7 linked regions of the Homo sapiens genome follow. Changing the gene in region 1 together with any one later gene gives a genetic interaction. Each region holds a gene or a part of one and is shown on either strand. Other genes may lie near its edges. The genes, in order: ATR, POLI, RAD23A, POLA1, GINS3, CHEK2 and MCM4.

Evidence for each region.
Region 2: changes in ATR (region 1) and POLI are lethal when combined (synthetic lethality), as found in Homo sapiens cells (one large-scale study listed by BioGRID).
Region 3: changes in ATR (region 1) and RAD23A are lethal when combined (synthetic lethality), as found in Homo sapiens cells (one large-scale study listed by BioGRID).
Region 4: changes in ATR (region 1) and POLA1 are lethal when combined (synthetic lethality), as found in Homo sapiens cells (one large-scale study listed by BioGRID).
Region 5: changes in ATR (region 1) and GINS3 are lethal when combined (synthetic lethality), as found in Homo sapiens cells (one large-scale study listed by BioGRID).
Region 6: changes in ATR (region 1) and CHEK2 are lethal when combined (synthetic lethality), as found in Homo sapiens cells (one large-scale study listed by BioGRID).
Region 7: changes in ATR (region 1) and MCM4 are lethal when combined (synthetic lethality), as found in Homo sapiens cells (one large-scale study listed by BioGRID).

The regions. Positions count from the first base shown.
Region 1 is NC_000003.12:142,568,734-142,572,233, reverse strand, and holds part of ATR (serine/threonine-protein kinase ATR), read left to right. Parts: intron 1-3,500. UniProt on the Homo sapiens protein: Serine/threonine protein kinase which activates checkpoint signaling upon genotoxic stresses such as ionizing radiation (IR), ultraviolet light (UV), or DNA replication stalling, thereby acting as a DNA damage sensor.
Region 2 is NC_000018.10:54,283,017-54,286,516, reverse strand, and holds part of POLI (DNA polymerase iota isoform a (long)), read right to left. Parts: intron 2,775-3,500; exon of another isoform or gene 2,702-2,774; intron 2,596-2,701; coding exon 2,504-2,595; intron 1-2,503. UniProt on the Homo sapiens protein: Error-prone DNA polymerase specifically involved in DNA repair. Plays an important role in translesion synthesis, where the normal high-fidelity DNA polymerases cannot proceed and DNA synthesis stalls. Favors Hoogsteen base-pairing in the active site.
Region 3 is NC_000019.10:12,948,862-12,951,501, reverse strand, and holds part of RAD23A (UV excision repair protein RAD23 homolog A), read right to left. Parts: intron 2,422-2,640; coding exon 2,343-2,421; intron 2,228-2,342; coding exon 2,094-2,227; intron 1-2,093. UniProt on the Homo sapiens protein: Multiubiquitin chain receptor involved in modulation of proteasomal degradation. Binds to 'Lys-48'-linked polyubiquitin chains in a length-dependent manner and with a lower affinity to 'Lys-63'-linked polyubiquitin chains.
Region 4 is NC_000023.11:24,700,418-24,703,917, forward strand, and holds part of POLA1 (DNA polymerase alpha catalytic subunit), read left to right. Parts: intron 1-2,833; coding exon 2,834-2,930; intron 2,931-2,963; exon of another isoform or gene 2,964-3,500. UniProt on the Homo sapiens protein: Catalytic subunit of the DNA polymerase alpha complex (also known as the alpha DNA polymerase-primase complex) which plays an essential role in the initiation of DNA synthesis.
Region 5 is NC_000016.10:58,398,971-58,402,470, reverse strand, and holds part of GINS3 (DNA replication complex GINS protein PSF3), read right to left. Parts: intron 1-3,500. UniProt on the Homo sapiens protein: Required for correct functioning of the GINS complex, a complex that plays an essential role in the initiation of DNA replication, and progression of DNA replication forks.
Region 6 is NC_000022.11:28,735,321-28,738,820, reverse strand, and holds part of CHEK2 (serine/threonine-protein kinase Chk2), read left to right. Parts: exon of another isoform or gene 1-1,537; coding exon of another isoform or gene 1,538-1,561; intron 1,562-3,500. UniProt on the Homo sapiens protein: Serine/threonine-protein kinase which is required for checkpoint-mediated cell cycle arrest, activation of DNA repair and apoptosis in response to the presence of DNA double-strand breaks.
Region 7 is NC_000008.11:47,967,441-47,970,940, forward strand, and holds part of MCM4 (DNA replication licensing factor MCM4), read left to right. Parts: coding exon 1-45; intron 46-2,357; coding exon 2,358-2,617; intron 2,618-3,070; coding exon 3,071-3,436; intron 3,437-3,500. UniProt on the Homo sapiens protein: Acts as a component of the MCM2-7 complex (MCM complex) which is the replicative helicase essential for 'once per cell cycle' DNA replication initiation and elongation in eukaryotic cells.

The sequences.
Region 1 (3,500 bases):
GCCGGGCGTGGTGGCACGTGCCTGTAGTCCCAGCTACTCGGGAGGCTGAGGCAGGAGAATCACTTGAAGCTGCGAGGCGGAGGTTGCAGTGAGCCGAGATCACACCACTGCGCTCCAGCCTGGGCGACAGAGCGAGACTCCGTCTCAAAAGAAAAAAAAAAGAAAAAGGGCCGGGTGCGGTGGCTCACGCCTGTAATCTCAGCACTTTGGGAGGCTGAGGCGGGCGGATTACCTGAGGTCAGGAGTTCGAGCCAGCCTGGCCAACATGGTGAAACCCCGTCTCTACTAAAAATACAAAAATTAGCTGGGTGTGGTGGCACACGCCTGTAATCCTAGCTACTTGGGAGGCTGAGGCAGGAGAATTGCTTGAGCCCGGGTGGCGGAGGTTGCAGTGAGCCAAGATCGTGCCACTAACTGCACTTCACCCTGGCCGACAGAGCGAGACTCTGTATCAGAAAAAGAAAAAAATTCACTCTTTTTCTTTTACCACTATTTGAGATAATAAGTGGGGAAAATGTATGAACATTTTACAGTGCTATATAGAAATAAATTGTGACATATATGAAATATATGCTATTATTTATAAGTAACTGTCTTACTACACCCTAAGTTGTTTTGTCAGAAGTGATGGACTTTGCTAATCACTCACACATAACCCACTGTGAATCCTCTAGGTAGAGTTAATCATTCCCTGCTTTGGGTGTACATGATACTTGCTTTTGATTATTTATTTATTTATTTATTTATTTATTTATTTATTTATTTATTGAGACTGAGTCTCGCTCTGTCGCCCAGGCTGGAGTACAGTGGCGCGATCTCGACTCACTGCAATCTCCGCCTCCCAGATTCAAGCGATTCTCCTGCCTCAGCCTCCTGAGCAGCTGGGACTACAGGCGCCCGCCACCACACCCAGCTGATTTTTGTGTTTTCAGCAGAGATGGGGTTTCACCATGTTAGCCGGGATGGTTTAGATCTACTGACCTCATGATCCGCCTGCCTTAGCCTCCCAAAATGCTCGTATTACAGGCGTGAGCCACCATGCCCGGCCGCTTTTGATTATTTAAGTGCATTCCTCTCCTCTCCCCAGCAACTATTCTGAGTTCTTTGAAGCAGAGGATCTTGTTTTACTTGCCTTTTGAATTTATTAAATTATTTGCGTCTGTACCCATCCATTCTTTCTATGTTTATGAAAGAGTTACCCTCCTGTCCAAGGATTGTCTTTTTACTTATATCTGGTTCCAAGAAGAGGAGTCACATCTCAAGAATTGGTTGCTTAGGTCTTTCCATTATAAGGGAGAAACAAAACAAAGCCCTCTTGATCTCATACAGTTCTTTAGTTATCACCAACTCTACTTCTCTTCATTTCATGATCAAGCTTTGGAAAGAACCCGCTATTCTCAGTATTCACATTTCATTAGATTTTCAGCCCCTTGCAATCTGGCTTCTCTCTTTACTGCTACAGGAAAATTTTAAAAGTCCAAAAGGCATACAAATACCTAAACATAAGAACTAAAACTATGAAACTCTTAGAAGTGAACATAGAGGGGGCCGGGCATGGTGGCTCACACCTATAATCCCAGCACTTTGGGAGGCCAAGATGGGTGGATCACCTGAGGTCAGGAGTTCCAGACTAGCCTGACCAACATGGAGAAACCCTGTCTCTACTAAAAATATACAAAATTAGCCAGGCGTGGTGGTACATGCTTGTAATCGCAGCTACTCAGGAGGCTGAGGCAGGAGAATCGCTTGAACCCAGGAGGCGGAGGTTGCGGTGAGCTGAGATCGCGCCATTGCACTCCAGCCTGGGCAACAAGAGTGAAACTCTGTCTCAAAAAGTAAATAAATAAATAAAAATAAGGGAACATAGAGGGAAAACATTATGACACTGGATTTGGCAATGATTTCTTTGATATGACACAAAGCACAGGCAGCAAAATAAACAGATAAATTGGAATTCATCAAAATTAAAAACTTTGTGCATCAAAGGGCAGTATCAATAGAGTGAAAAGGCAACCCATGGAACTGGAGAAAATATTTGCAAATCATATGTCTGATAAGGAGTTTAATATCTAGAATATATTAAGAACTCCTACAGCTTAACAACAAATATAACCTGATGAAAAACAGAAAAAGAACTTGAATAGACATTTCTCCAAAGAAGATATACAAATGGACAAATAAGCACATGAGAAGATGCTCACAATTACTAATCATTAGGGAGATGCAAATCAAAACCACAGGATACTGTTTCACACCCATTATGATAGCTATTAATAAAAAAACAGTTGGGGCTGGGCATGTTGGCTGATGCCTGTAATCCCAGCACTTTGGGAGGCTGAGGCAGGCGGATCACGAGGTCAGGAGATTGAGACCATCCTGGCCAACATGGTAAAACCCCATCTCTACTAAAATACAAAAAATTAGCCAGGCATGGTGGTGCATGCCTGTAGTACCAGCTACTTGAGAGGCTGAGGCAGGAGAATTGCTTGAACCCGGGAGACAGAGGTTGCAGTGAGTTGAGATCATGCCACTGCACTCCAGCCTGGTGACAGAGCAAGACTCTGTCTCAAAAAAAACCAAAAAACAAAAAAAATCCCACAAAAAAAAAACACAGTTGGGCATGGTGACTCATGCCTACAATCCCAGCACTTTGGGAGGTCAAAGCAGGCAGATCGCTTGAGCCCAGGAGATTGAGACCAGCCTGGGCAACGTGGTGAAACCCTGTCTCTACAAAAAATACAAAAAATTAGCTGGGTGTGGTGACATGCACCTGTGGTGCCAGCTACTCAGGAGGCTGAGGTGGGAGGATCTCCTGAGGCTGGGAGGTTGAGGCTGCAGTGAGTTATGGGTGCACCACTGCACAGTAACCTGGGCAACAGGGTTAGACCCTGTCGCCAAAAGGGGAAAATAAAATAATAATAAAAAAACACCCAGAAAATAACGTGTGTTGGTGAAGATGTGGAGAAATTGGAACCCTTGTCCACTGCAGGTGGGAGTGTACAATGGTACAGCCACTGTGGAAAAGGGTATTAGCGTTCCACCAAAAATTTAGTTTTTATGTGCTTCAGAAGGGAGGAAGTGAATGCTAATTGGTCCATAGGCAGTCATGGGTGGGCCTGGAAAAAGCACCCTAAGTTCTCGCTGTGGTCCGTGTAACTGGCAGCCAGGCTTCCAGGCTTCAAGCTGTTCCTGGCTTGAAGGTGGGTCTTCACTGGGGACCCACCCCTTTCCTCCCAGGAGCCTACTTCCTGCTGCCATCAACCTGCCACCCACTACACCGAGGCTGTTCGTGCCGAGGGGCGCCTGCAGGCCCATATTGAGCTGCCCTCAGCCTACCGCTTGGCCTGCCCAAAGTCCAGAGGGAGATGAGGCAGCAGGGGGCTGGTGTGTCAGTGCCGTCCTGAGCACATGCACACGCGGCCTGGTCCTGACAACACCTGGGCTCCCCCACAACTTTGCTCCGAAATTGGTGTGGGTGCCGGGAGCGGGGAGAGGCCAGG
Region 2 (3,500 bases), on another chromosome or scaffold:
GACATTACTTTTGTTAAAGAGTAATCACTATTACCATTATATGATAGCTTATTAGAGCAATATCTTAAAAGAGCATATACTATATTTAGTATATAATTAATATACAATATGAGTACATGCATTTTTTAGAAGAGTTTCATGCAAATGTCTTGGTTTTGGTGTTGAAACAAAGGTTTTAGTGATATGACAAATTCACTTAAGTAGTACTGGAAAAAATGTCATTAAAGGATAACATTTCCCTTTTTATACACATGGCAATGCATATAAAACCAAATCTCAAACATAAAATGCAAGTATTGCACATTGTTAAACACACTCAACTTGAAGATTCTGATCTGAAAAAAATAGTTCTGGGCCAGGCACGGTGCCTCGTACCTGTAATCCCAACACTTTGGGAAGTTGAGGTGGGAGGATCACTTGAGCCCAGGAGTTCAAGACCAGCCTGGGCAACATAGCAAGACCTCATCTACAAAAATTTAAAAATTAGCTAGGCTTGATGGCAGGTGCCTTCCCAGCTATTCTGGCGGTTGAGGTGGGAGGATTGCTTGAGCCCAGGAGGCTGAGGCTGCAGTGAGCCCTAACTGCACTACTGCCATCCAGCCTGGGTGACAGAGCAAGACCCTATCGCAAAAACATAAAAAATTAAATAGTTCTGTAGTAAATAATTTTTTCTATCTCTTACTGCTTTGTGACAAAACTTCTCGATGGCTGCTTAACTAGGATAAAATACCTTAAATGGTTACTAGTTTAAATATCTTCCAGTTAAACGTGTTATATTAATTATGCAATTCAAAGAGTATGATATGCTAATTAAGACACATTAGAAAAAGGCTGTATCGTAAGCAATCTTAAACTAGTGCCTAGAGGATGGATTAAAAATAATACGGTTTTACATTTCTTACATACCTATAGTATTAATCATAACATACTCTAGAGAAAACAAAACTAATTATACACAAATACACACACACACACACACACACACACACACACACTCCTGTAATTTTTTTTTTTGCAAGTCACTTAGATGGTGTTATAATTCAGTCACTGAAATAAGGGCCCGTGGTGTGGGAGAAAAGGAGCCGGGAAGCAGAGATACAGACAAATGGTTAATTTCACAGGTTTTGTATGTCACAGGTTTAGAGCACCTGGTCTCACTTCTGGGTTGACTCTTCAAATAAGAGAACCTGTAAAACTTATACTTCTTGTGGTTTTTCTATGTGAAGAACTGTCTCCAAAGGTTAGGCATTTCAGGGTAGTCTTCTATTTAGCTGAAGCAAATGACCCAGTTTCACTAGCATACTCGCAGGCCCAGCCTGAGTCATATCACGGGAGGCCAGTCATACAGCCAGCCCCAGCTGCATGCAGCCAACAATGAGCTGCATGGCTCTGCTCAAGACATTTGAGTGCCACATTGCACACGACAGCAAAGTTGGAGGAAATTTCACTTCTTCAGTTTTCTCAGACTTAGAACCAACCAAAAACCATTTTCTCTAAATACAGTTAGTCCTCCTAGAATCATTAGAGAAGCACACCTACTCTAAACTGTTAGAGCCCTGAAACCACAATTTGAGAAATTTCTAACAAGAAGAGGAGAAACAAAGAAATGGGACGAAAACAGATAATACTCATCTGTGGAATATGGAATATTGAGAAATACATGTATAATGACAAGGAGCACCACAAAATTAAATTTCCTTTTCAGTTTATCTTGTACTACTCATATATTTATAACCCCAGTTGATACTCTTTACATACAGATCAGAAACCCTGCACACACCTGCAGTCACTCACCCTACTCACACACAGCGCCAGCTAGCCATTCTTTCCTTCGACTCCATTTTATTTTACAGTCTGAGGCAAAAGAGATACAAGGGTTCTTCTGCTTCTTCCATCACTGTTACTTTAATAATTTCCTATCCTCAACAATCACAAATTTATATAGTTGTTCCTGTATCAGGAGTTTTAGAATTATGACAGTATTATTCCTCTTTGCATTTTTTTCTTCTTAATGAAATGCAAGTAACTATTAGCAGAGGCACAGATAAATGGTTAATTTCACGGGTTTTGTATTTCGCATGTATTTGTATTTAGCATGGTACTAACTTAATGAAATGCAACTAACTATTAGGTTGAGGGCAGAGGCTTTGCAATTGCCACAGGGAAAAATTAAAACTTCTTCTTCTCACCTGAAGACCAGAATAAGTCTAGAAATGTTAGAAATATCCATAAAACCCCTTTAGGTAACTATCTGCAGCTTTAGATCCATAGCATAACCACAGTGTTAACAGAATTAAGACCAATGAATTCAATTTAGGTAAGACCCCCTATTACCATCTTTACAACAGTTTATAAAGCAGAGAAATCCCATGATAAATTATTTTTACATTGTTTAGTCTCCAGATAATCTGTCAGTTCCAAGATGGAACATCAAATATTCTTTCCACATACCGTATATAGAATGAATACATAGGATGACTTGGCAAAATGGATTGAAAATCACCTGTTTAAAAGACTAGCAAGTAGTTCTTCAATCTTATTTTTAGCTTCAACTTCAGATGAACATTTTTTAAATGAATCTTCTTCACTAAAGGACTATCAAAGAAGCATAAATAAGGATTAGCACAAACTCAAATAACTATATCTAATTATTATCAGTGTACAGTCAAATAAATATTCAATACATTCTTCACTAACTTACCTCTTGTCCTTAGTTTGAGCCATTTAGTTCACTTTTATATTAACAGTTTTTTATCTGCAAGCTATTGTACTCACTAGAAAGTTAATATAAAATATTACTGTATTAACAGTTAATATAAAACAGTTAATATAAAATAATTCAAAGTTATGAAAACTCTAAAGCTCTAGTACCAACTCCAAGCTTTATTGTATGATTATGGCAAGAGTTCTTAATCACCTAGGACTTGAATCTAAGTTTATCCTTGGACAAGTTATTTAACCTTTCTAAAGTACGGTATCCTCATCTTGAGAGAGAGAGAATGGAAGGAAGGAAGGAAAGAAGAGAAGTAAGAAGGAATGGACAAACAACAGTACTACCTACCTTGATGCTTTGTTGTGAAGATTAAATGGACTAACATATTTAAAGCACTCAGTAAAGTGCTTGTCCCATAGCAAAAAAATCAGTCAATGTTAACTGGGTGATTATACCTTTCCCATTTGCTAAATCACTGGACTACTCTGAAAACAAGATTTTTAACAGATTAAAATATTTTGCCTCATATATGCATTATAGGCTATTAAAATTAAGTTGCACTGTCTTCAATCATAGTAGCTAACTTAAGATATCAAAATATCAATGCTTAAGATTCCATTTAAGAATACTTATTAATCCAATCTATTAATAATAAATCAGCCTTCTAATAGGAAAGGGATCACATACTAAGCAAACTAGAATAGTAAGAACATGGTACTAAAACTAGAAATCTTTATCTCAAATAATGTGATAACCAGTACTTAATTAAAATAAGTATCATCATGTA
Region 3 (2,640 bases), on another chromosome or scaffold:
GCACTCCAGCCTGGGCAACAAGAGCGAAACTCCATCTCAAAAACAAACAAACAACAACAACAAAAAAAACAAAAAACAGCGAACAAGGGAAGGGGGAGGAGGCAGACAATGACACCAGAGAGGAAGGCCCAAGTCAGACCCATTTTCTAGAGCAGGGGGAAGCCACGGTGGTGACAGTTACATGGGAAAAGACGTGGTCTGTGGATCTTTTAGAAAGGTGAACTTGGCCGGGTGTGGTGGCTCACGCCTGTAACCTCAACAATTTGGGAGGCAAGGCAGGAGGGACTGCTTGGGCCCAAGAGTTCAAAACCAGCCTGGGCAACATAGACCCTGTCTCTATTCCCACCTACCAGCCCCCAAACCAAAAAAAGTGAACTCATCTGGGTGTTGGATTTAGGTATCTGGAAGTTCATTTGTTCATTTTTGTTTCTGTTCTTTTTGAGACACTCTCACTCTGTCACCCAGGCTGGAGTGCAGTGGGGCAATCTCGGTTCACTGTAATTTCTGCCTCCTGGGTTCAAGCGATTCTCCTGCCTCCACCTCCTGAGTAGCTGGGACTACAGTGGCCTGCCGCCATGCTCAGCTACTTTTTGTATTTATAGTAGAGACGAGTTTTTGCCATGTTGGCCAGGCTGGTCTAAAACTCCTGACCAAGTGGTCTGCCTGCCTTAGCCTCCCAAAGTGCTGGGATTACAGGCATGAGCCACTGTGCCCTACCTGGGTATCTGGAAGCTCTGATATAACTCTACCATTGTATGCATCTGATCATTTTCACATTAAAGAAGAAAGTGCTTTTCAGTCAGCCAGGTGTGATGGCTCATGCCTGTAATTGCAGCACTTTGGGAGGCCAAGGCGGGCAGATCATTAGGTCAGGAGATTGAGACCATCCTGGCTAACAGGGTGAAATCCCATCTCTACTAAAAATACAAAAAATTAGTCAGGCGTGGTGGCGGGCGCCTGTAGTCCCAGCTACTCGGGCGGGGGCAAAAGAATCGCTTGAACCCGGGAGGCGGAGGTTGCAGTGAGCCGGGATTGCGCCATTGCACTCCAGCCTGGGCGACAGAGCGAGATTTCCTCTCAAAAAAAAAAAGAAAAGAAAGTGCTTTTTAGTCATCTGCCTCATGGTTGAAAAGTGGACTGTGGGACTATGCAGTGGCAGAGGCCCAGGAAGAGGCTACCAGAGAGCTGGAGTGCAGGGAGGGGCTGAGTGGGAAGAGCAGACAGGACAAGGGGTAGACCCCAGCAGATCCCCAGGGCCTGGGGCTGAAGCAACCCCAAGCTAATCCTTGCAGAGATCGGGGAGGACTGGGGAGGTCTGTTCTAAGTCTTAGACGTCTAGTCTAGGGAGCACTTTGATGGAGAGTTAATTAAGCCAGCCATGGAGTGTGGCATTCAGAGAGGCCTGGGCTGGCTACATAGATTTGGGGGTTCCCATACAGACTGAAGGCCCCAGGACACTATGAGGGAGGGCTGAGTGCAGATGAAGAACACGACCGACCAGGAGGAGCTGGCAAGGGACTGAGAAGTGAGAGGAGAAGGGTCAGACAGCAGGGTCCTGAGCCAAGACCGGTAGGCACTTCACCGAGAACCCAGAGGAACCTACTTGCACCCAGGGGGCCACTCCCCCACTCTTCCTGTGAACCTTCAAGGGCAAGATGGAGCCTCACTGAGCAGAGTTGTCCCAGAGCCAACTGGGGCACAGCTGTCCTGGGTGACGTCATGCCACCTTACAGACATTTACGCAGCACCATCTGTATGTGAAGCCAGAGCCCCAGCCCAGGACCCCACCCCGAGGCAGGAGGCAGACACACACACTACCAGCTGCGTGACCCTGGGAATGACAGGCTGCTCTAAGTTTCCGGTGTCTTCTTCTGTGGGAGGTGATGTTGACAGCACCCACACCTTACAAGGTGGTTGGGAAGACTGAGAAACCAGGGGGGTCACCAGGTCACAGGAAGCACAGGGGCGTGGGGGAAGCATGTGCTTAGTCCTGCTTTCCGGACCTAGAACGATTCCTACGTGTTATGGACTCTGGTGCCCACAGGGAAGGGAAATGGTGGCTGCCCTAGCTCCCTCTGCCCTTGGGACCACACCTGTAAAAGCTGAGGGTTCTCCTGGCCCAGCTGCTGGAGCAGGGCGGGCAGCAGCGCAGGGTTCTGCTGAATCACCTGCCGCATGTTCTGGAACTGGGGCTGGTCCCGCAGGAACTCCAGGGGGTTCTCTCCTGCTGGTAGTAGGAAGGGGTGCAGTCAGACACCACGCCGGGCTCCTAGGAGCACTGCGGGGTGGAGTGTAATGTGAGTCAGGTACCTGGAGGGCAGATGCGGCATGTGCACACCCACCTGCTTCCGTGGCCGGCTGCTCCGATACCTGGCTCTCCTGGACAGAACCGTGTTCCGGCTCGGGGCTCCCAGGAATTCCCTGTCAGGGGTCCTGTTTAGTTCTAATGCACAGACCTCCTGCTGCCACCCTCCTCCATGCCCTGGCAGGACACAGATGAGGCCTCGGCCCTGCCCTCCAGAGGCCCACCCATCACTCACATCCAGCCTCCTGTGGGAAGCCTTTAGTGGCTAGAATCACTACCCAAAGGCTTTTCAGGGCAGGTTTTGCCTTCCCAACCGCCCATCAGGGCAGTGACGC
Region 4 (3,500 bases), on another chromosome or scaffold:
AATATTTGCCATTTGTCACCATTTGTTCAAGTTAAGTGAGGCAACCAGATCATAAAAGGTTGCTAAAAGGATTTCAGTAAAACAGGAATAAAGCATTTTTTTTGTTTTTGAGATGGAGTCTCTCTCTGTTGCCCAGGCCGGAGTGCAATGGCACGATCTTGGTTCACTGCAGCTTCCACCTCCCAGGTTCAAGCGATTCTCCTGCTTCAGCTTCCCGAGTAGCTGGGATTACAGGCGCCCACCACCACGCCTGGCTAATTTTTGTATTTTTAGTAGAGACGGGCTTTCACCATGTTGGTCAGGCTGGTCTTGAACTCTTGACTTCAAATGGTCCACCCGCCTCGGCCTCCCAAAGTGCTGGGATTACAGGCGTGAACCACCACACTGAGCCCAGGACTAAAACATTTTTAATGTAGGTACTTGTATAAAGGAGTTCCATGGGGCATTTCAGATGTTGGCACAATGTGGCTGATTTCCCTTTAACACTGTGATGTTAATTGTATGGCTCTAAGAGTTCATGCTGAGCAGTAGTAATGTTGTTTTTAAAGATTGAGTCGAAATGACTTTTTACTCAAAATGATTTTTAAAAATAGTTTTCTGGTATCTCCTTGATAATATAGTGAATCACTTAAGTAAGAGACAAAGTCTGTCTTCAACCAACAAAAATAATAACGCCAGTTCCCCTCCCACCCCCAAAAAAGAAAGTTGGTCAGTATAGTAATATTAATTGGACTATTTTGCATCTCTTTTGTTAAAAGCTTAATTTGGTAAGGCAGGTTGTTTCTGTTACTAGATGGTTAAAGACCAAATCAGTATTTGCCAGTGATTCCTGTAGAGTAGGCTAAAAAGGAGGTGAAAACTCAAATCCCGTAATTATTATAAGCCTTATAGGTGTGGCAGAAATCCAGTCAGCTCTGGCCACTGGATTCCAAAAGCTCTGTCCAAGTTTTTTCCTAGGGTATTAACTCTTCAGATGGAGTTGTTTCTCCCGTACTCCATTTGAGAAAGGTAGAACTCTTTTTTTTTTTTTTTTTTGAGGTGGAGTTTTGCTCTTGTTGCTCAGGCTGGAGTGCGATGGCATGATCTTGGCTCACTGCAACCTCAGCTTCCCAGGTTCAAGCGATTGTCCTGCTTCAGCCTCCCAAGTAGCTGGGATTACAGGTGTCTGCCACCACGCCTGGCTAATTTTTATAATTTTAGTAGAGACGGGGTTTCACCATGTCGGTCAGGCTGGCCTGGAACTCCTGACTTCAGGTGATCCACCTGCCTTGGCCTCCCAAAGTGCTGGGATTACAGGCGTGAGCCACCACACCCGGCTGAGGTAGAACTCTTGAGAGAATGGGAGAATTTTTTTTTTTTTTAATCTCGCTCTCTCTCCCAGGCTGGAGTGCAGTGGTGTGTTCTTGGCTCACTGCAACCTCCACCTCCCAGGTTCAAGCGATTCTCCTGCTTCAGCCTCCTGAGTAGCTGGGATTACAGGCGCCCCCCACCATGCCCAGCTAATTTTTGTATTTTTAGTAGAGATGGGGTTTCACCACGTTGGCCAGGCTGGTCTTGAACTCCTCACCTCAAGTAATCTGCTCACCTTGGCCTCCCAAAGTGCTGGGATTACAGGCGTGAGCCACTGCACCTGGCCGAGAATCAGGTACTTTTTTTTTTTTTGAGATGGAGACTCGGTCTCTTACCCAGGCTGGAGTGCAGTGCATGATCTCGGCTCACTGCATCACTGCAACCTCCACCTCCCGGGTTCAAGTGATTCTCCTGCCTCAGCCTCCTGAGTAGCTGGGACTGCAGGCATATGCCACCACGCCTGGCTAATTTTTGTATTTTTAGTAGAGATGGGGTTTCACTATGTTGGCCAGGCTGGCCTCAAACTCCTGACCTCAGGTGATCCACCCACCTGGGCCTCCCAAAGTGCTGGGATTACAGGCGTGAGCCACTGTGCCCAGCATTTGTTAATTTTTAATAAGTATCTATGAGATTTTGCAAACCAGCCCACCAGAGTCTCATCTGGAAAGTCACTGGCCTTTCCCCATGGGCAGCTGCAGCAGTGGTGTGTATCTTTCATTTGTTGCTTTAGCTGTGCAGAGGTTGTCTGCTTTACTCATACCAGTAGCTCATAGTGTTCTGACCCTCTTGCAGTCAGGCAGCCAATATGATTGGAGGACCTGCCACTCTCTGGACTTGCCTTTCAAATAGCTCAGCGTTTAAGTCCTTGTGTGGTTTCAAGACCTGAGGATGGTGGAGTTTCAGTGGTAATACAAACAGGGTCACTCAAAAACTATTTCTGGTTTGCCTGTAGAATATGCAATATGTTTGTTTTGCTAATTTTTGGAAGGGGATGGATGAGGGAGATTTTCCTTCTGAATTGTATTTGGTTGATTGAACAGGCATGAAAATTATCGTCTATTTGCAGAGCGTACATCAGCTAGTGGAGAGGGAAGTGGCATGCCTTACAGGTTTGCTAAGTGTAGGAGAAACCAGTCTAGAAATTACAAGTGAATAATTCCCCAAAGCAGCTAATGAAGAATTGGCTATAATTCAGTTTGTTTTTTATGAAATAGATGAGTAATTGATGGTATGACAAGTGTATTATGCTAATGGAATCATTTAATATCTTATGTTAACACCCACCTAAAAGGAATACTAAGTTAATTGATGTCTATTTAAGGAAAACCCTGTAGTGGTGTTGAATGTCAGAACTCATGATTTGGTTGCAGCTACTCCTTCAGTCTGCCATTCCAGTTTCAATTTGACAATTTTTTCATCAGAATTATTTAACACTTTGACTCCTCTATTTGAAGCTTTTTTCCTGAAACTTGTATAATGGTAGGTCGAGGACTTCACAGGTGTTTATGAAGAAGTTGATGAAGAACAGTATTCGAAGCTGGTTCAGGCACGCCAGGATGATGACTGGATTGTGGATGATGGTAGGTGGGGCGGAGGTGGGGGCGGGGATGTTGCTTCCTAGGCACTGTGTTAGTTGCTTCTTGTAGATTCTCACTCATGTGGTGGAGTTGCTGCTTTGCCTGGGCAAATGTAAGGCACTGTTAGGATCTTACCTTTGGTTTGGATTTTCCTTTAATTATTTGAGGATGAGGAAGCAGAATAGCAGGACATTTATTTGGGGATATTTTGGAGAATCTAGGCACATACCTCAGGATGTAGTATAAATCCTCCAGGTAATGGCTGTGTAAGAATTGGGAGGAGCCCCTTGTCTGTGGGGCCAATGCACAGCGCTTGGAATTAAGGAATGCAGGTTCGGGATCCATCATTCCTACTTTCCAATTCTATGACCTTGGACAAGTCACTTAATCTCTCTGCGCCTTAGAGTCTTCATCTGTAATATGGGGATGAGAAAACTACCTTCTCCCAGAGTTGTGAGGTGTATATGAGGTTCTAGGTATGAAAATTAACTTGGTCAGTAGAAAGCACCATACAAAGGCTGGTCCTAATGTCCTGTGCCCCTTCTGAAAGCTCATTGGTTCTCACTTGTAGGG
Region 5 (3,500 bases), on another chromosome or scaffold:
TCTCACAAGGGAGAACTGTTGCAAAAAGATGGGAGCAGCTTTGTGGGTGTGGAAGCAGAGCTTTTGGCAAACTGCACAGGACTAGACAGACCAATATTGAGTTCAAGGCTGCCAACACCACCAGGACATGAGGGCCTAAGATCTGAGAAAGAAGGGAGGGAAGTAAGCCCCCTATTTGACACCGAATAGCAGAGAAATTAGGCGCCAACTTTAAGATAAACTTAGAAATCAAATGGAAATTCCAGAACTGAAAAATACAATAATTGAACCTAAGAAGTCAATAGATTAAATCAAATTTAACATGTTTACTGGATTGGATTTGGATGAAGACAGGACTGTGAATGAGAAAAGGTCAATAGAAAATAACCAGACTAAAGTATCTAGAGAAAAAACAGAGAAGAGCCTAAGAGATGTATGAAATAAGGTGTAAAAGAAAGACAAAGTTCAACATGCATGTAATTTGATGGGCAGGAGCGATAGATTGAGGCAAAATAAATGTCTGAAGAGATAATAGCTATATATTATCCAAAATTAAAAAAGGTATCAAACCACAGATTCAAGGAACATTATGAATAACAAGTATTAATAGAATAAATACTAATAAAATCACAACTAGGCATATATTACCTGAATTACGAGACCAAAGACAGAGAAAATCCTAAAAACAGCTGTAGATGGGAGTGACGAACACACTGCCTTTAAAGAATGAACATTAAGAGTTAAACCCAACTTTTTGGCAGGGGCCGGTGGCTCACGCCTGTAATCCCAATAAAAGGTGAAGCCGGCTGGGCTTCTGGGTTGGGTGGGGACTTGGAGAACTTTTCTGTCTAGCTAAAGGATTGTAAATGCACCAATCAGTGCTCTGTATCTAGCTAAAGGTTTGTAAACACACCAATCAGCACTCTGTAAAAACAGACCAATCAGCACTCTGTAAAACGGACCAATCAGCACTCTGTAAAATGAACCATCAGCTCTCTGTAAAATGGACCAATCAGCAAGATGTGGGTGGGGCCAAATAAGGGAATAAAAGCAGGCCACCAAGCCACCAGCAGCAACCTGCTTGGGTCCCCTTCCACGCTGTGGAAGCTTTGTTCTTTAGCTCTTCACAGTAAGTCTTGATGGCTGCTCACTCTTTGGATCCCCACTACCTTCATGAGCTGTAACACTCACTGCAAAGGTCTGCAGCTTCACTCCTGAAGCCAGCGAGACCACAAACCCACCAGAAGAAAGAAACTCCGGACACATCTGAACATCTAAAGGAACAAACTCCGGACACACCACCTTTAGGAACTGTAACACTCACCACAAGGGTCTTCGGCTTCATTCTTGAAGTCAGCGAGACCAGCGAGACCAAGAACCCACCTGAAGGAACCAATTCCAGACACACCAATAATTTGGGAGGCCAAGGCGGGCAAATCACATGGGCTCAGGGGTTCGAGACGGGCCTGACCAACATGGTGAAACCCCGTTTCTACTAAAAATACAAAAATTAGCCAGGCATAGTGGTGGGCGCCTGTAATCCTAGCTACTCAGGAGGCTGAGGCAGAAGACTCGCTTGAACACAGGAGGCAGAGGTTACAGTGAGCCGAGATCACACCATTGTACTCCAGCCTGGGCGACAGAGCAAGACTCTGTCTCAAAAAAGAAAAAAAAAAAAAAAAGCCAACTTCTTAACAGAAACTGTGGAAGCCACAAAACAATGGAAATGGAATTTTTTTTTTATGTGCTAAAAGAACATAACTGTGAGTGTAAAATCTTATACCCAGTGAAAATATCCTTTAAAAGTAAAAGTGAAATAAAGGCATTTCCATAGAGAAAGTATGCAGGAAAGATACACAGTAGGCCTGAGGCTGCTATCTTAGCAAGGCCTGCTGCAAGGTTGGCCCTTGGTTGGCATTTGGGAACTTGGATTTCAGGAGGATTCTCACCCGTCCTAGAACTGATGAGAGTGTGCCTGAACTGTCTGTGCAAACAATGTGATTCATGTTGAACACCTGCTTTCCCTCTGGAAGTCTGAATTTTGGTCTGTGCTAGACAGAAAGTGCCACATGAACAGCCTCCAATAAAACCCTGGGGACTGAGTCTTTAACAAGCTTCCCTAGGAGACAGTATTTCAAACATTTTATCAGAATTCAAATTACTGGAGAATTTAAGTGCATCCTGTGTGACTCCACTAGGAGAGGACTCTTGGAAGCTTGTGCCTGGTCTCCTCCAGACTTTACTCCATGCAACCTTTCCCTCTGCTAATTTTGCTTTATATCCTTTTGATGTAATCAATCTTAACCATGAGTGTGACTATATGCTGAGTCCTTTGAGTCCTCTTAGTGAATCATCAAATCTGGGTTGGTCTTGGGCATCTGTGACACAGACAGAAACTGAGACTTATCACCAGAAGATCCAGAATAAGGGAATTCTGAAGAGAGAATGCAAATGATTCCAGAAAGAACTACAGAAATGCAGAAAGGAAAAACAAGTCATGAAAAGAATATATAAGTGGGTATATAATAATAATGTTTTACAGGGGTTTTCAATGAGTCAAACTAGAATACATCACAATAACACAAGAGAAAAAATGGGTTTAAGTGTTCTAAGATTCTAGTCATTTCTGTGAAGTGGTGAAAGTAGTAACTTATATAACATTCTTTTTGGTCAGAAATGATTGTGTAATATATTTAAGGTAGCCACTAAAATAACAGAAGAATATATAACTAAATAAACTAATAAAAAGGTAAATGAATAATAAAATAAATTTGATTAATGCAAAAGGAAGTCAAGAAAGGATAGAAAAAGAAAGCTAAAACAGATGGGACATAAGAAAATAGTAAGAAGGTAAAAATGAATACAAATATGTCAATAATTAAATGTAAATGGATTAAATATAACAATTAAAAATCAGCACACTGCACACAAAACAAAACCCAACTATATGCTGCATAAAAGAGACATACCTTAAATATGAAGACACAGAAAAATTAAAAATAGGATTAAAAAAAGTCATGTAAACATGAATCAAAAGACAGGAGCATTAGAGATAAAGGGAGACGTGACAATAATAAAAGGGTCATTATATCTACCAGAAAATTATTAATATATGTCTAAATTAACAGAAGTAAAAGGATAAACAGGCTAATCCATAATCATAATGAGAGACTTTAACATTTTTTCAATTTTTTTTTTTTTTTCAGAGAGGGGGTCCTGTTCTGTCACCCAGGCTGGAGTGCAGTGGTCTTCTAGGCTCAAGTAATCCTCTTGCCTCAGTCTCCTGAGTAGGTGGGACTATAGGCATGTGCCACCACACTCAGCTAATTTTTCAATTTTTCCTAGAGACAGGGTCTTGCTATGTTGCTTAGGCTGATCTCAAACTCCTGGCCTCAAGTGATCCTCTCACCTCCACCTCCCAAAGTGCTAGGGTTACAGGCAGGAGCCACCATGCCTGGTCCACATGTTTTACAGGATAAAAAAAAAAGTAGAAAAAAAAATTGCAAGGATAGAGAATATCT
Region 6 (3,500 bases), on another chromosome or scaffold:
TTTTAGCTTGATGAAATCCCAGTTGTCTGTTTTTGCTTTAGTTGCCTGTGCTTTTGAGGTCTTACGTAAAAACCCTGTGCCCAAAAAACCTGTGCCCAAGATGAGTGTCCTGGAGCACTTCCCCAGTGTTTTCTTCTAGTAGTTTTATAGGTTTTGGGACTGGATTTCTGTCTACAGTCCTGGAGTTTTGCTGCCCTCACTTTGGTTTTTCACTCACTTCTCTGCATGGCTTTCCAATAGCAATAGCTCCCAGATAGCAAGCATGGGTGGGTGGGGGGAGTATTACATGCGTCACTTCACTTAATCCTCATGGTCTGTCTACTTATTTTCAGATGAGAAAACAGGTTTAGAGAAGTTGTGATCTACCTAAAGTCATGCACAGTTTCACTCAAGTGTCTGACTCCAGATCCGCTTGCCTCTAATCTCTCATAGTAACTTGTTGACACATTTTCTCCAGTTGTCCTGTCTTGCTTAAAAAGCTGTGGGGAAGACTCAGCCTGGCTCAGGTAGTATTAGACCAGCAGTCCCTGGTGTGGCATACTCAGTTTTGGCATTGCCTTCCTGGTATGTTTTAAAGAAAACTCATCAGAACCTTTGTATCTTTTTTATTTTCCTTGAGACAGGGTCTCGCTCTGTCACCCAGGCTGGAGTGCAGGCTCGATCACGGCTCACTGCAGCCTCAACCTCCTGGACTCAAGTGATCCTCCCACCTCAGCTTCCCAAGTAGCTGGGACTACAGGTGCACACCACCATGCCCTGCTAATTTTTTGTATTTTCTGTAGATACTGGATTTCACCATGGTGCCCAGGCTGGTCTTGAATTCCTGGGCTCAAGCAATCTACCTGCGTTGGCCTCCCAAAGTGCTGGGATTACAGACATGAACCACCACACCTGGCAGAACCTTTGTATCTTGAAAGCTGTGTAAATACAATCAGTGTGGGTATCTTAGTCCCTCCTTATCAGCGGTAGTAGTTTCACTTACCAATGGTCAGCTGCGATCTGAAACTATTAAGTGGAAAATTCATAAGAAATAGTCAATTCATGGCTGGGCATGGTGGCTCAGGCCTGTAATCCTAGCAGTTTGGGAGGCTGAGGTGGACCTGAGGATCACCTGAGGTCTGCAGTTTGAGACCAGGCTGGCCAATACGGTGAAAACCCTGTCTCTACTAAAAAAAATATACAAATTAGCCGGGCATGGTGGTGTGCGCCTGTAATCCCAACTACTTGGAAGGCTGAAGCAGGAGAATTGCTTGAACCCAGGAGGTGGAGGTTGCAATGAGCCAAAATTGTGCCACTGCACTCCAGCCTGGGTGACTGAGACTCCGTTTCAAAAAAAAAAAAAAAAAGAAATAATCAGTTCATAAGTCTTAAATTACATGGTTTTGCAGTGCTTGTGTTCATGTCACCCTTATATTTAATAATGGCCCCAAAGCAAAAGATGCTGGCAATTTGGATATTGTAAAGAGAAGCTGTAAAGTGTTTCCTTTTACTGAAAAGGTGAAAGATCTCAATTTAATATGGAAATAAAAAAATTTGTATGCTGAGGCTGCTAACGTCTATGGTAAGAACTAATCTTCTATTTGTGAAATTGTGAAGAAGGAAAAAGAAAGTTGTGCATAATTTATATAGGGTTCTGTACTATGCGAGGTTTCAGGCATCCACTGGGGGGTCTTGGATCTTATCCCCCTCTGATGGTGGGGACTACTATAGTGTTGTTTCCTATGTTCTCCTAGAGTAGTAGCCTGAGTTTGGGGAGGAAGAGAATGCCCTCCTCTCCCTCCCTTTTTTTTGTTAATCCGATTAGGTCAGCAGTGGATGTTACTTTGATTTTACTGGTGGTTCTGTTATCAGAGTCTTGGTTTGTTTTCTGTTCTTTGGAGATAGGGTCTCACTCTGCCACCCAGGCTGGTATGTAAGTGGTATGATCATAGCTCACTGCAGCCTTCAACTCCTGGGCTCAAGTGATCCTCCCACCTCACCTTCCTGAGTAGCTGAGCCCACAGCTGCATGCCATCATGTCTAATTTTCTTATTTTTTGTACGGGGGGCGGGGGGGGTCCCACTATGTTGGCCAGGCTGGTATTGAACTCGTGGCCTCAAGTGGTCCTCTTGCCTTGGCCTCCCAAAGTGCTGGGATTACAGGTATGAGCCACTGCACCCAGCCTGTTATGACAGTCTAACTGTCTATCAGGTTAATTCTAAGACAAGGGTGGAAGCCTCTGTTACGGTCTCCAGTTTATAAAAGAATGGTTCCTGCAAGATTACATCAAGGCCGGAAGGCCATTTAGGATGCTGAAAAGATAAGCCCTATGGTTATTTAGCATCACAAAGGGATAGGTGGAGTTGTTAAGAGCTGTCTTCCTTTGTGTTCTGCCTCATTAAGTCACTGGGTCCTTAGGTGTCAGGGAATATAGATTGAACGAACAGGTGTGTTTCACTTTAGGAGCAAGCCTGGGGGAAAAGGGGTACCAGTGACATTTTATGTAAATGGACCCTTTGGAGTAATGCAGCAGGTTATTGTACAATTTCTTTTTGACTTTTATATCAAGCCACCTGATTTTTTGTCTTCTTTTGCTTTCCAAAGTACACAGATGCTCCTCAACTTTCAATGGCATTATGTCTAAATAAAACCATTCTAAGTTGAAAATATTGTTAAATTGAAATTACATTTAATACACCTAAGATACCAAACGTCATAGTTTAGCCTAGCCTCCTTTAAACATGCTCAGAACACTTATGTCAGGGTACAGTTGGGCAAAATTATCTAACACAAAGATTATTGTTATTATTTTTTGTAGAGGTGGGGTCTCAAACACCTGCCCTCAAGCAATCCTCCTACCTCCACCACCCGAAATATTGGGTTTACAGTTGTGAGTCACTGCACCTGGCCTATTTTATTTTATTTTAAAATTTTATTTATTTAATTAATTAATTTTTTTGAGACAGGGTTTCACTCCTGTCACCCAGGCTGGAGTGCAGTGGCGCGATCTCAGCTCAGTGCAACCTCTGCCTCCTGGGCTCGAGCAATTCTCCTGCTTCAGCCTCCTGAGTAGCTGGAACTACAGGCGCCTGCCACCACACCCGGCTAATTTTTGTATTTTTAGTGGACACGGGGTTTGACTGTGTTGGCCAGGCTGGTCTTGAACTCCTGATCTCAGGTGATCTACCTGCCTTGACCCCCCAGAGTTCTGGGATTATAGGTGTGAGCCACTGCACCTGGCCACCTGGCCTATTTTATAATAAGGTGTTAAATATCTCATGTAATTACTTGAATACTGTACTGAAGGTGAAAACCAGAATGGTTATGTGAGGACTTGGAGAAGTAAGTGTCTACTGATTGCTTTCACAGAAAGTCTAAACATTGTTAAATAGAAGCATTGTTAAATTGAGGACTGTATATATGAGTTTTTTTTTTTGAAACGGAGTCTTGCACTGTTGCCCAGGCTGGAGTGCAGTGGTGCAATCTTGGTTCACTGCAACCTCTGCCTCCCGGGCTCAAGC
Region 7 (3,500 bases), on another chromosome or scaffold:
ATCTCGTTGACAAGGTCCAGCCTGGGGACAGAGTGAATGTTACAGGTAAGAGTGTAGGTTTGCACCAGCACTTGAGCATGTCTGGCTTGCTTTCAATGCTGTGCTTTAGTGAGTCATTGGACTTGGTCACAGGTCCAGTTCTACCTCCAGTTGTCACTGCTTGTCTTTGAGACTGTGGGGTATATCCCTGCTTTATCTGCCACCTTTTTAACTGAGTACCATGGCCCAGCAGTATGAAATTGTTCAGTTCTTCCCAAACTTGAATGTTGGAGCTCATGGTTCGTGTGGTCACTCGCCTCTTGATACCTCAGTATCCTGGAGCTGTGTGTGTCTCAAGTCAGTACTGTTGGCATCATGAGAGAGCAGCCTCAGACAGGCTTGTATGGGTAAAGTTTTGAGTTATGCCATCAGCTCAGAGAAGTATTACTCACCAATGCTGGAGTTTTAAGTAATTTTTACTTAATTTCCCAAATGTATAGCCAAGGGTTAACATTTGTTTGTTACAGAGAAAAATGAGTCAGTGACTTGTTTCCATGTGTAGAAGCTGAGGTTCAGGGATGCATAGACAGCAGTAGCTCAGATGCCACGGTAAATCAGAACCCAGGACCCAGGTCTCCTTCTCTTGCTGCCACAAGAGTGCTCTTTGCACAGCACCATATGAGTGTGGCAGTCCTCCTTTTGATGCTGTAGAGTCACAATGGATTTTGGTTGGGGGCAAGGGAGTGTTGATGGCAGCACGGTTCTTCATTGATGGGCAAGGTGGCGACGGTCGCGGAGTGCCTGAATCTGCTCCTGAGCGGAGGGCCTGGGGCACACCACGCATCGGCTCTTGTCTTCAGTGAGGCAGTGCTCACCCTGTTTCTTCCCCAGTGTGAAGTCCCGCAGTTATCACTGGCAATCTTCCGTCGTAAAAGTACTTGAAGTCATGGAGAATTTGAAAGAATGCGTAGTTTTTAGTGAGTGACGTGCGCATTTCCAGTCCTGCTACCCTGAAACCTTTGATAAAGTATTTAGTCCAATATTTTTGTTTCCTCACCTACAAAGTGGAGTTAATGTGATGATACATGTGTGAGAGTGTTTGGGGCCAAGGGGCTGTGGAAAGTGCTGTGTAGATGTGAAATAAGTATCAATGCTGCTCTGTGAGATAAATCATTCCGGGCCACTTTAAACATAATCTTCCATCCCTAGCCTATATTGGAGTGAAGAATAGTGTGTATTCTAAGAATGTGTGTAAACTGGTTTGTTGTGTTAAACAAGAATTACACTGACCCACTGAATAAACAAGGACAGTGCTCTGTGCCATTGCGTTGAGATAGCTGTAACGGGGAAAGGCCAGGCTTTCTCCAAAAGCTGCAGGAATCAGCCTGGAGTTAAAGCCTTCTGGTTTGAAATCCAGAAAAGACGAACATCAGATCAGACCTCTGTATGTGAGGAGCCTGGCTTCCAGAAGAATGCATGATTTGCATGCTTTTGTCGGGGGTGGTGGGTAGGTTGGGGGGACCTAGTCTAGTTTTAATGACTGGAGGATTTTAGCATTTTGTTGCAGTCAAGTAAGTGCTAGGCAGATTCTGTACACTCAACTTAGGGAAGTAAAAATACTGCTTATTAAAAACAACCACGAACCCAGCATTGAGCTAGAAGCACAGCAGCTCCATTTCACCCTCAGGGTGACTGTGCCCGTGGGCATGCTCACGTAGCTACAGTTGCCCTGGAGCACTGCTGACTAGTGGGCCCAGGTGAACACGTCCTCGGGTCTATCATTTGCAGAAACCTGGGTTCTTTCTCTTTTGTTTTGTTTTGTTTTGTTTTGTTTCATTTTGTTTTGTTTTGTTTTTGAGACGGAGTTTTGCTCTCGTCACCCAGGCTGGAGTCCAATGGCACCATCTTGGCTCACCGCAACCTCCGCCTCCCAGGTTCAAGCCATTCTCCTGCCTCAGCCTCCCGAGTAGCTGGGATTACAGGCATGTGCCACCACGCCCGGCTAATTTTTGTATTTTTAGTAGAGACAGGGTTCTCCTTGTTGATTAGGGTGGTCTCGAACTCCCAACCTCAGGTGATCCGCCTGCCTCAGCCTCCCAAAGTGCTAGGATTACAGACATGAGCCACCTTGGTTCTTTCGAGCTTGTCCGTTTCCTGCTGCTATTTCCCTGCTTGCTCATAGCAAGCGGGAGCTTTGCAATGTGGGCCTGAGTCCTGGGCTTGGGAGGGTCATTTAAGAGACGGTGGAGCTCACCCTTTCCAGGGCCAGCCCGACGTGGTGCCTCGCTCTGAAGTGCACCTGTTGCCTACGCTGGTTGCTGAGCCACTCGGAGGAAGATATGGGAAGGTAAAAGTGCATCTCCTGGTTGTGCCCTCAGGCATCTATCGAGCTGTGCCTATTCGAGTCAATCCAAGAGTGAGTAATGTGAAGTCTGTCTACAAAACCCACATTGATGTCATTCATTATCGGAAAACGGATGCAAAACGTCTGCATGGCCTTGATGAAGAAGCAGAACAGAAACTTTTTTCAGAGAAACGTGTGGAATTGCTTAAGGAACTTTCCAGGAAACCAGACATTTATGAGAGGCTTGCTTCAGCCTTGGCTCCAAGCATTTATGAACATGAAGATATAAAGAAGGTAACAGTGGATTTTAAACTAGGGGTTGGGATTTACAATTCTTTGGGATCAAATAGTATAAACATCCACTCCGCCACTCGAGCCATCCGCCATAAAGGACAGAGTTGTGGCCTGTTAGAGCAAGTGCTGGCAACCTGACTTGCCATTGGTTGAGAAGAATCATAGCATTGTCTATCCTCATCTCTGGTCTAAACTTAGGTTTCTAAACAGAAGAGGCCACACAGTGTCAGAATAGGGACTTGCATGGCCACCATTCTGGTGTAATGATAGGTGCTGATGAACTGGTCAGTGATAACTTAAAGCATATCAAGCACTTTCACGAGCCTTTTTATACCTTCCTGTGATTTCTTAATTGTAGTTCTTTATAAGAGAGAAAAGTACCTCTAAAGTTTAAACTACATCTCAGTTAACTGTGCAGAAAATGAATGTTTAGACATGTCTCTGATTATTTAGGGAATTTTGCTTCAGCTCTTTGGCGGGACAAGGAAGGATTTTAGTCACACTGGAAGGGGCAAATTTCGGGCTGAGATCAACATCTTGCTGTGTGGCGACCCTGGTACCAGCAAGTCCCAGCTGCTGCAGTACGTGTACAACCTCGTCCCCAGGGGCCAGTACACGTCTGGGAAGGGCTCCAGTGCAGTTGGCCTCACTGCGTACGTAATGAAAGACCCTGAGACAAGGCAGCTGGTCCTGCAGACAGGTGCTCTTGTCCTGAGTGACAACGGCATCTGCTGTATCGATGAGTTCGACAAGATGAATGAAAGTACAAGATCGGTATTGCATGAAGTCATGGAACAGCAGACTCTGTCCATTGCAAAGGTGAGTCGCCTTCTCCACCGTGAACATGGACGTGTTTAAAATATGTGGACCCTTGAAAGACAGG